Linked DNA regions of Homo sapiens: region 1 is linked to region 2. Evidence: fine-mapped expression QTL. A gene starts in region 2. The other region holds a variant in brackets. All regions are shown on one strand. Distances are from middle to middle. Region 1 overlaps LOC124902793 (a long non-coding RNA gene). Region 2 holds the start of NFRKB (nuclear factor related to kappaB binding protein).

Region 1 (5,230 bases), 98 kb before region 2:
GCTATAAAGAACTACCTCAGACTAGGTAATTTATAAAGAAAAGAGTTTTAATAGACTCACAGTTCCACAGGCTATACAGGAGGCATGGTTCGGGAGGCCTCAGGAAGCTTACAATCATGGCAGAAGGGTGGAGGATAAATGAGCATGTCTTCGCATTGCGGCAGGAGAGAGAGAGCAAAGGGAGAAGTGCTGCACACTTTTAAACAACCAGATTTCGTGGGAACTCACTCATGATCATGGGAACAGCAGTGGGAAATCTGCCTCATGAGCCAATCACCTCCCACCAGGTCCCTCCCCCAAGACTGAGGATTACAGTTCAACATGAGATTTGGCTGGGGACACAGAGCCAAACCATATTAGCTGGAAAAAATAATAATACTTATTCTGGATGGCTAGCACCAGGATGGCCAAGGAGAGATTAGATAATGAGAAACTCTATGATAAGATCTTCCAAAATAATAGTCAATTATACTAGCAACACATAAACCACTTCCCATTGAATTAAAATGCCATCCTTGCCTTTGCTAAGTTCCACATATAATTACATTCATTTAAGAACACTAATTTTTCTTGCAATATTGGTCACTGCAAGGAAAATCTGTGTGTTTTTGCTTTGTAAGATTTGTGTGTTTTTGCTTTGCAAGCCCAGCACTAGGTTTTGGGAAATGACTGTATTGTGAAAGGAAATCAGAATTCTTTCTGAGCCTCTTTCATTGTCCCTAATATAATGACTTCCAGAAAATTGTGTATCTGGAATCAAAGAGATTTAACAGCAAGACTCCAGGTTTTCAAAATATAATCGCTTTTTAAATGCTCATGTTTTAAAATGTTCAGTTCTTTGGATTAAATGTTCAGTTCTTTGGATGAAAGATGCTATATTCCCTCGGTGTAAATGAATAAAAAGATTATAAAAAGAAACCCACTAATCTGTCCCACTATTATACTAAAACAACTTGGTAATAATTAACTGGTATTATTGTATTATTCTATAATTGATTATTAGTAATTTACCTTTTAACTACTTGATTGAAGATTAACTTGACCTGTAAAACGAACCTAAACAGTCAGACTTACTTTTTCAAAACTGGTTTGTCACCCAGGTGCAGTGGCTCACACCTATAATGCCAGCACTTAGGGAGGCCAAGGCAGAAGGATCAATTCAGTTCAGGAGTTTGAGACCATCCTGGGCAACATAGGGAGACCTCATCTCTATTTAAAAAAAAAAATTAAAATCAGGGAAAATGGAAGCTAGGAGACAGAGCTAATGTGCAGCTCCCACATGGATGGACAGAACAGCATGTGGAGACTCACACCATGATCTTTTGCTCTAAGAACCATGGCAGGAACATACCAGGAAAAGCGAAAAAATTCACAGAGCCTTTGAAAGAAGCAGCACGCCAATGCAAATTTCATGAAACAGGCAAAAAAACTGTGAGTTCCCAAAGTGTGAGAAAGGGAAAACTTACCTCTGAATACACATCCCCACTGGGGAATCCGAAAATCCAGATCACAGGAGAAGAATTTAACCTTACCTAGAGATTAAATGGATTTAGGGATTCACACAAAGTAGAAAAGTAGAAGTAGCATTGGGAAGTGCCTTGGATGTACTCCAAGTCTCCAGCTCAACCCCAGGGAAGCCATCCCTGAGTATATCTTACAGAGGCCCTCAAGGAAGGCAGCCAGTGGAATTGGGGAAGGGCCACAGGGTGAAGAAACCTCCCAAGTGAAATTGGTAGTGGTTTCAACTGGGCACAAATTTTCTTGAGTGGAGTCCAGGTGATGAGTGGGAGGTGTTGTGGATACAAGGTGCTGCCAATGAAGTAGGCAGATGGAGAGAGGCGAGGTCTGAAAGCCGTGCTTGCTTTCTCAGTGGGGTAAGCTCACAGCCTGGGGCAAGGTCTGAATGGTCCACTGCAGAAGAGAGGCTGGCCTGACCAATGGTGTGGGAGCTGGGTCAGGCCTCTTGCTACCAGCTATCTCCTACTACCCTGGCAAACTATATGATACAGTGGAGGTAGCCAAAATCCTCTTGGGAACATAACCCCATTGGCCTGAGAACTATCCTCCATCACTCACAGTGGCTGCAGCAAGCCCCACCCAAGGAGAATCTGAGCCTAGACCCTCTTAACTCTGCCCCAACCTGATGGTATTTTCCTACTTGCCCTGGTAGTTGAACACAAAACTCAGAAACTCTTGGGAGCTTTATGGCCCTGCCAATCACCTGAGTATCCAAAATACTTACCCTGACCATCTTAGGGCAAGCTTAGAGCCCCCTACGACTACTGCAGCTGGTGCTCTCTTGAAAGCACCATCTCCTGGCTAGAGGCCAACCAACTCAGGCCACCACAGTAACTCATGACAGAATAACCCTGATCCCAGGAAGGAAAAGACAACACCTAATTCCACTTCCTGAAACATCCTGGCTAACCAAAGGTCCTGTGTGTGTTCATGTGACAACTTTACCACTAGTGTAACCAGCATTACAGAAAGCCAGCACACTAAACATATCTACAACCAAGGACTTTCATAGAGTCTACCTCACTCCCCTGCCACCTCCACCAGAGAAGGTGCTGCGATCCAAGGATGGGAGACCTGAAGAAAGACCACATCACAGAACTCTGCAGACATTCCCCAGCACCAGCACATAGCCTGGTAGCTCCACTGGGTGGCTAGGCCTAGAAGAGCAGTAAGAATCACTATAGTCCAGCTCTTAGGAAGCCCCAGTCCTAGGGGAAAGGGAAGAGCACCACATCTAAGGATCACACCATGGGATAAGAGAATCTGAACAGCAGGCCTTGAGTTTCAGATTTCTTCACTGAAATAGTCTACCCAAATGAGAAAAGAACAGAAAAGCAATTCTGGTAATATGACAAAACAGGGCTCTATAATACCCCCAATGATCACACCAGCTCCCCAGCAATGGATGCAAGCCAAGAAGAAATCTCTGAATTGCCAGATAAAGAACTCAGAAGGGTGATTATTAAGCTACTCAAGGAAATGCCAGAGAAAGGTGAAAACCAACTTAAAGAAATTTAAAAAGCAATACAGGATATGAATGAAAAATTCTCCAGAGAAATGATGTCACAATGAAAAAAATCACTTCTGGAAATGAAAGATACACTTAAAGAAACACAAAATGCATTGGAAAGGTCAACAATAGACTAGAGCAAGTAGAAGAAAGAACTTCAGACCTCAAAGACAAGGCTTCTGAATTAACCCAATCAGACGAAGACAAAGAAAAAAAGAAGTTAAAAATGAACAAACCCTCC[C/A]AACAGCTAAACCTAAGAATAACTGATGTTCCTGAGGAAGAAGTGAAATCTAAAAATCTGGAAAACTTGTTTGAGGGAATAATTGAGAAAACTTCCCTGGTCTTGCTAGAGATCTAGGCATCCAAATACAAGAAGCTCAAGGAACACCTGGGAAATTCATCACAAAAAGATCATCACCTAAGCACATAATCATCAGGTTGTCTAAAGTCAAGAATGTTAAGGAAAGGATCTTACGAGCTGTGAGGCAAAAGTATTAGGTAGCCTGTGTAGGAAAACTTTTCAGACTTCTCAGCAGAAACCTGATAAGCCAGAAGGTACTGGGGACCCATCTTTAGCCTCCTGAAACAAAATAATTTTCAGCCAAGAATTTTGTATTCAGTAAAACTAAGCTTCATAAATGAAGGAAAGATAAAGTCTTTTTTCAGACAAACAAATGCTGACAGAATTTGTCACCACTAAACCAGCACTACAAGAAATGCTTAAATGAGCTCTAAATCTTAAAACAAAAGCTCAAAATACACCAAAATATTAATAGAACCTCCTTAAATCATAAATCTCACAGGGCCTATAAAACAATAATACAGTGGGGAAAAAAACAAGGTATTAAGGCAACAACTAATACGATGAATAGAACATCAGTACCTCACATCTCAATACTAACATTGAATGTAAATGGCCCAAATGCTCCACTTAGAAGATACAGAATGGCAGAATGGATAAAAATACACCAACCAACTATCTGCTGCCTTCAAGAGACTCACCTAACACATAAAAACTCACATAAACTTAAGGTAAAGGGATGGAAAAAGACGTTTTACATCAATGGAATCCAAAAGGGAGCAGGAGTAGCTATTCTTGTATCAGACAAAACAGACTTTAAAGTAACAACAGTTTAAAAAGACAAAGAAGGACATTATATAATGATAAAAGGCCTTGTCCAACAGGAAAATACCACAATCCTAACTATATATGCATCTAACACTGGAGCTCCCAAATTTATAAAACAATTACTACTAGACCTAAAAAACAAGACAGACAGCAACACAATAATAGTGGGGGACTTCAGTACTCCACTGACAACACTAGACAGGTCGTCAAGACCAAAAGTCAACAAAGAAACAATGGACTTAAGTCCATTTGCACCAAGGTATAGTTTAACAGATATTTACAGAACATTCTATCCAACAACTGCAGAATATACATTCTTTTCTTCAGCACATGGAACATTCTCCAAGATAGACCATATAATAGGTCACAAAACAAGTCTCAGTAAGTTTTTAAAAATCAAAATTATATCAAGTATCCTCTCAGACCACAGTGGAATAAAACTGAAAACTCCAAAAAGAACCCTCAAAAGTATAAAAAATACATGTAAATTAAATAATCTGCTCTTGAATTATCTTTGGGTCAACAGTAAAATCAAGATGGAAATTTAAAAATTATTTGAGCTGAATAATAGTGACACAACTTTTCAAAACCTCTGGGATACAGCAAAAGTGTTGCTAAGAGAAAAGTTCAGAGCATTAAACACCTACATCAAAAAGGATGAAAGAATGCAAATAGACAATCTAAGGTCACACTTCAAAGAACTAGAGAAACAAGAACAAACAAAAAAAAACTCAGCAGAAGAAAAGAAATAACAAAGATGGGAGAACTAAATGAAATTTAAACTAAAAAAAATAAATGGAACAAAAAGCTGGTTCTTTGAAAAGAGAAACAAAACTGCTAGAACATGAGCAAGATTAACCAAGAAAATAAGAGAGAAAAAATCCAAACAAGCTCAATTAGAAATAAAATGAGAGATATTACAACTGATACCACAGAAATATGAAAGACCATTTAAGGCTACTATGAACACCTTTACACACACAAACTAGAAAATCTAGTGGAGATGGATAAACTCCTGGAAATATACCACCCTCCTAGGTTAAATCAGGAAGAAATAGAACTCTGAACAGGCC
Region 2 (5,212 bases):
TGATCACGCTACTGCACTCCAGCCTGGGCAACAGAGACCCTGTCTCAAAAAAAAAAAAAAAGGAAAGGAAAAAGAGAAAGAATATTGTTTGTTGTTCTTTCACAAAAGAAAATTTGCTGAAAATCAACATACACTAGTAAAATGCAAATGCTAACAGTCACTTTATGAGGGCCTATTAAAAGCCAGGCCTTTCACATATCTCATTTAATTCCTACAACTGTGCAAAGTAAGGTCATGGGTTATTACATCGGAATTAAAACTGAAAATCAGAGTAGGTCAGTAACTTGCCCAACCCCAGAGGCAGTACTGAAACTCAGGTCTACCTGCCTGCAAACCCATGTGCTTAATGCTACACACAATACCTCTTGTATAACCTCGCAACATTTAAATAATAAAAACGAACCTTACTGATATGACTTTATTAGTCCATATAAATTCCTGAGGTTCCACACACCTGACCATAACCACCAGTAAAGTCAATGGCCAATCTGCCTTTAGTTGGTCCATTTGATCCGTATAATCATGTAAATTAATGCTACTTTTCTCCTTCGTGTAATAACAGAACACTGCTGATCACCTTCAGAAAACTACATACCACAACATTTTCAGACTGATGGCTGGGATTAGGGGTCAAGTTGATAGCACAGGACTGCACAATGCTAACAGGACCACAGGGAGCTTAAACTCAATCACTCTACCAACATTTACTAAATCCATCCTTTCCAGCTCCTATTCCTACAAAGTGGGCTAAAAAGCATACTAAAATGAAAAGAAAAAAGGATGTTAACAGTCAAAACACCAGAATTCCATATTCCACATTCCACAAACACCACATTCCACAAATCTTACCACGCCAGGTGTCAATTTCCTTATTTGAGGAAGGGAAGCTGGACCAGGTCCTCCCTCCCGTTATTTCCAATTCTGGAATCCTGCAATGAATAATCTCTAGATGAGTGACAGTGTGAATTACGTAATACAGGTACTTTTCTTTTCCAAAATTCTCCAATGATAAAGAACAGTTCTAGAATAACTATATGTAAAATGAAGCATGTTCCACTAAATTATTTCAAGCTCCCTTGAAGAGATTTCAGATCCATGTAAAGATATAGCAGAAACTTAAGCGTTGAGTCAAGTCACGTGGGTGGTCCCCAAGCAACTGTGCCCCCTCATCACCCTTCAGCACATGGTGAAATGACATCCTCATCATGCCTATGCCTAAATAAGTGAAGCGGGTGAGACAGCACATAGCATGTGAGTTTAACAAAACTTCAAAATAGCACCAAAAAAAAATTGCAGAAGCAACCTGATGCTCAGAATAAAACCTTCTTAACAGAACTGGCATAGAACAGACTATCAACTGCAAAGTCAGTGTCCTACCTGCCTCTTAGGAGGTCTCTATACAACTTGCTCACAAGTTTCTTCAGTGACGGTGCGTGTCTAGCTAAAGTTAATCTAGTCCACTGACAACCTTTGCACTGCCACTATTCTGAACAGAATCTCAAAATACCAAAACCAGGCAGCTGCCAGGGAGTTGGACCCCGGAAGCCAAGGATTTCCAGATCTTCGGGCGTTCTGAACCTCTTCACTAGACCACGAAGGCCTCTCGGCCTCTCATCACTGGCTTTCAGCACCTGGTCTAACTTTCCCCGCTGGACCCTCCCCAACGCAGAAGCTAAACCCTCGGGTCCTTCCAGAGCAACCGCCGGCTCCAAAGCCCTCAACTCTGCAGCAAATTCCCCTCCGGTGCCAGCCCGGCTGGCCCAAGGCCCGGGTCCAATCCTCAGAACTGCACGGCTCGGCCCCGCCCCTCCCCCACGCCGTGCCTAACCCTAACCCCCAGCCTCACGCGTCGCACCGCTCCCCACGCCCCGCTCCCGCTCCCCACGCCCACACGGGCAGCGACCTCGCGGACCCAGCCGCCCGCTCCCGCTCCCTCCACTCCCAGGAGACACTTCAACCCTTTCGCCGCCCCTTGCCCGCCCTCACCTGAACCGCGGGCGCCGGCCCCCTAACCCGCAGCCCTTCTCCGGCCGCGGGCTCCCAGACGCACTCGCTCCCGCAAGGAGTCTGGGTGCGCGCACGCTCTGGGCCTGCGCGGCGGAAGGGGCGGGGCAGCGCGGGGCGGGGCCTGGAGGGTGCCGGGGCGGGGCCACAGCGGGCGGGTCCTGGAGCGGCTCGGGAGAGCGGAGGGTCGGCGAGGGTGCCTGCGCGCGGCTGGGCCTGGGGATGCAGGTTCCAGCCTGCTTGCGCGTCTCACCTGATTTAGGAGCTTCCAGAGGCCCCAGACAGTGCCTGTCTTTGCCTGACCGCGAATCAAAGTTCCATAGCCCGTGAGCGAAGGCACGTCTATTAGCTGACGTTTGCAGAGAGCATACCCTGCCCCAGGCCCTATGCTAAGCACTTTCTACCCACCGTCTTTGTGCTGCAGCCCTGTGAGCTATGCACTATTAGTGCCCATTTTACAGTTGAGGACATGAGTAGAACGCGACCTCAGCCTGTGCTTCCGAGTTCCTTCATTCCTCCTTCCCGTCCCCGGGCCCTCGATGTCCAGAAAGAATGTAAACACATCGAAGGATCACATTTTAAAGTTAAACTCCATCATTTTCCTCTTCTTAGATATGAAGGCCCCTTTCCTGTTATTCACTGGGTTTTGCTTAGTACGGCTTCACACTACTTATTCCAGGTACTCCCAGCAGTGGCGCAGAGACCATCCTCAGTTCTGTGTGTGGATGGGACCAGAGAAGCCGGCCGGCCGAGCTAATGTTCTTCCCTTCCTGGAAGAGAGTAGTTTCCAAACAACCCGATCTCTGTTCCTCTACTGGCTCCACATATGCTCTAAGTTCCTGTTACACTGTTGAGAGGCTCTTGAATTAGAAACTATCGAGTATAAATGGCAGTGGAATATCACTCTATAGTTGTCACCGATATTTCCCTTACCTTGAGATTGTGACAAGACCAGAAAGAGAAAAAGAGTAAAAACAATGTAAACTATAATTTTTGATAGACTTTGTTTTTTTAAAGTGGTTTAAAGTTAACAAAATTGAGCAGAAAGATATTTTCCAAATACTCCCCGCCCCACCTCCCCACATGCATCGCCTTCCCTTTATCAACATCCTCTACCAGAGTGGTACATTTCTTAGAACTGATGAACCCGGCCCGGCCTGGTGGCTCACGCCTGTAATCCCAACACTTTGGGAGGCCGAGGCGGGCGGATCCCGAGATCAGGAGATCGAGACCATCCTGGCCAACATGGTGAAACCGCGTCTCTACTAAAAATACAAAAATTCGCCGGTCGTGGTGGCGGGCACCTGTAGTCCCAGCTACTCGGGAGCTGAGGCAGGAGAATTGCTTGAACCGGGGAGGCGGAGGTTGCAGTGAGCCGAGATTGAGCCATTGCACTCCAGCCTGTCGACAGAGCGAGACAGAGCGAGACTCCATCTCAAACAAAAGAACTGATGAACCTACATTGATACATCATTACCCACCATCACAGTATAATGCAGAGTAATTTCACTGTCTTAAAAATCATCTGTGCTCTGCATATTCATCTCTCCCTCTCCTCTACCCCTGGCAACCGCTGATCTTTTTGTCTCCATAGTTTTGCCTTTTTCCAGAGTGTCATCTAGTTGGAATTACATAGTATGTAGCCGTTTCAGATTGGCTTCCTTCCCGTAGTAACAGGCATTGAAGTTTCCTCCATGTCTTTTCATGGCTTGATAGCTCCTATTTCTTTTTAGTGCTGAATAATATTCCATTGTGTCGATATATCACAGTTTTATCTATTCGCTTACTGAAAGATATCTTCATTGTTTCCAGGTTTTGGCAATTATGAATCAAGCAATTATGAATCAAACAACCCAGAAATCCAACCACCCACTCCAGGCATCTTTGCATGAACGTATCAAAAACACCTCAGTCCCAATGCCCAGGATCTTCCCCTTTGAGAGGCTGAGATGGGTGGATCACTTGAGCCCAGGAATTGGAGACCAGCCTGGGCAATATGGTGAAACCCCATCTCTACTAAAATAAATACAAAAAATTAGCCAGGTGTGGTGGCACGTGCCTGTAGTCCCAGCTACTCAGGAGACTGAGGTGGGAGAATCGCTTGAGCCAGGGAGATCGAAGCTGCCGTGAGCTGTGATTGCACCACTGCACTCCAGCCTGGGCAACAGAGTGAAACCCTGTCTCAAAAAAGTAAAAAGAAAAATAAAACAACAAAGAATAAGTAAGACTTTTCCTTTACCTTCATTATTAAAGGTAATAATGATGTTCTTTCTTTATATAGATCTGAGGTTCTGACTTTTATCATTTTTCTTCTCTCTGAAAAACTTAACATTCTCTCCAAGGCAGGTCTACTGGCAACAAATCCCCTTTGCTTTTGGGGGATAATTTCATGGGCTACAGCATTCTAGGTTAGACACTGCTTTTTTCTCTCAACACCTTAAACATTTCATTCCACTCGCTCCTTGTGTGCACAGTTTCTGAAGAAAAGTCATTTTTTGTTCATTTGTTTTTTGGTTTTGAAGGATTTTTTTGCATTTATCCTGTGTGTCCTCTGAGCTTCCCGGATCTGTGGTTTCATCTTCCATATTGATTTGGGGAAATAATCAATCATTATTGCTTCAAATATTTCTTCTGTTCCTTTCTCTGTCTTCTGCTAGTATTCCCATGAGGCATAGTTATACCTTTTTTTCATCATCTCACAGTTTTTGGATATTGTTTGTCTTTCAGTTATAGAGGTTTCTATTGAGATATCCTTAAGCTCAGCAATTCTTTCCTAAGATGTGTCTAGTCTACCATTTAGCCTCTCACAGCTACTCTTCATGTTTTTTTTTTTTTTTTTTTTTTTTTTGAGGTGGAGTCTTGCACTGTGACCCAGGCTGGAGTGCAGAGGCGCAATCTCAGCTCTCTGCAACCTCCACCACCCAGGTTCAAGCGATTCTCCCACTTCAGCCTCCTGAGTAGCTGGGATTACAGGCACCCACCACCACGCCTGGCTAATTTTTGTATTTTTAGTAGAAGCAGGGTTACACCGTGTTGGCCAGGCTGGTCTTGAACTCCTGACCTCAAATGATCCACCCACTTCAGCCTCCCAAAGTGCTGGGTTTACAGGCATGAGCTGCCGTGCCCAGCCTACTCTTCATTTTTTATCTCTAGCATTTTAGCTCATTCTTAGGATTTCCATCTCTCTCCTTACATTGTTTGTTATTGC

The links.
Region 1: its variant is fine-mapped to the expression of NFRKB in whole blood (TOPMed, PIP above 0.99).

Annotation. Positions count from the first base shown.
Region 1 is chr11:129,796,001-129,801,230 of GRCh38, forward strand. The region is part of intron 1 of LOC124902793 (a long non-coding RNA gene); the gene reads right to left. Among named protein-coding and RNA genes, the nearest start is that of TMEM45B, 17 kb to the right of the region's middle. The variant C/A (reference allele first, on the strand shown) is at 3,270.
Region 2 is chr11:129,893,510-129,898,721 of GRCh38, forward strand. NFRKB (nuclear factor related to kappaB binding protein) reads right to left here and starts at 2,069. Exons shown (of 27, transcript NM_001143835.2): 1 at 1,987-2,069; 2 at 850-929. RefSeq lists a silencer at 1,786-2,225.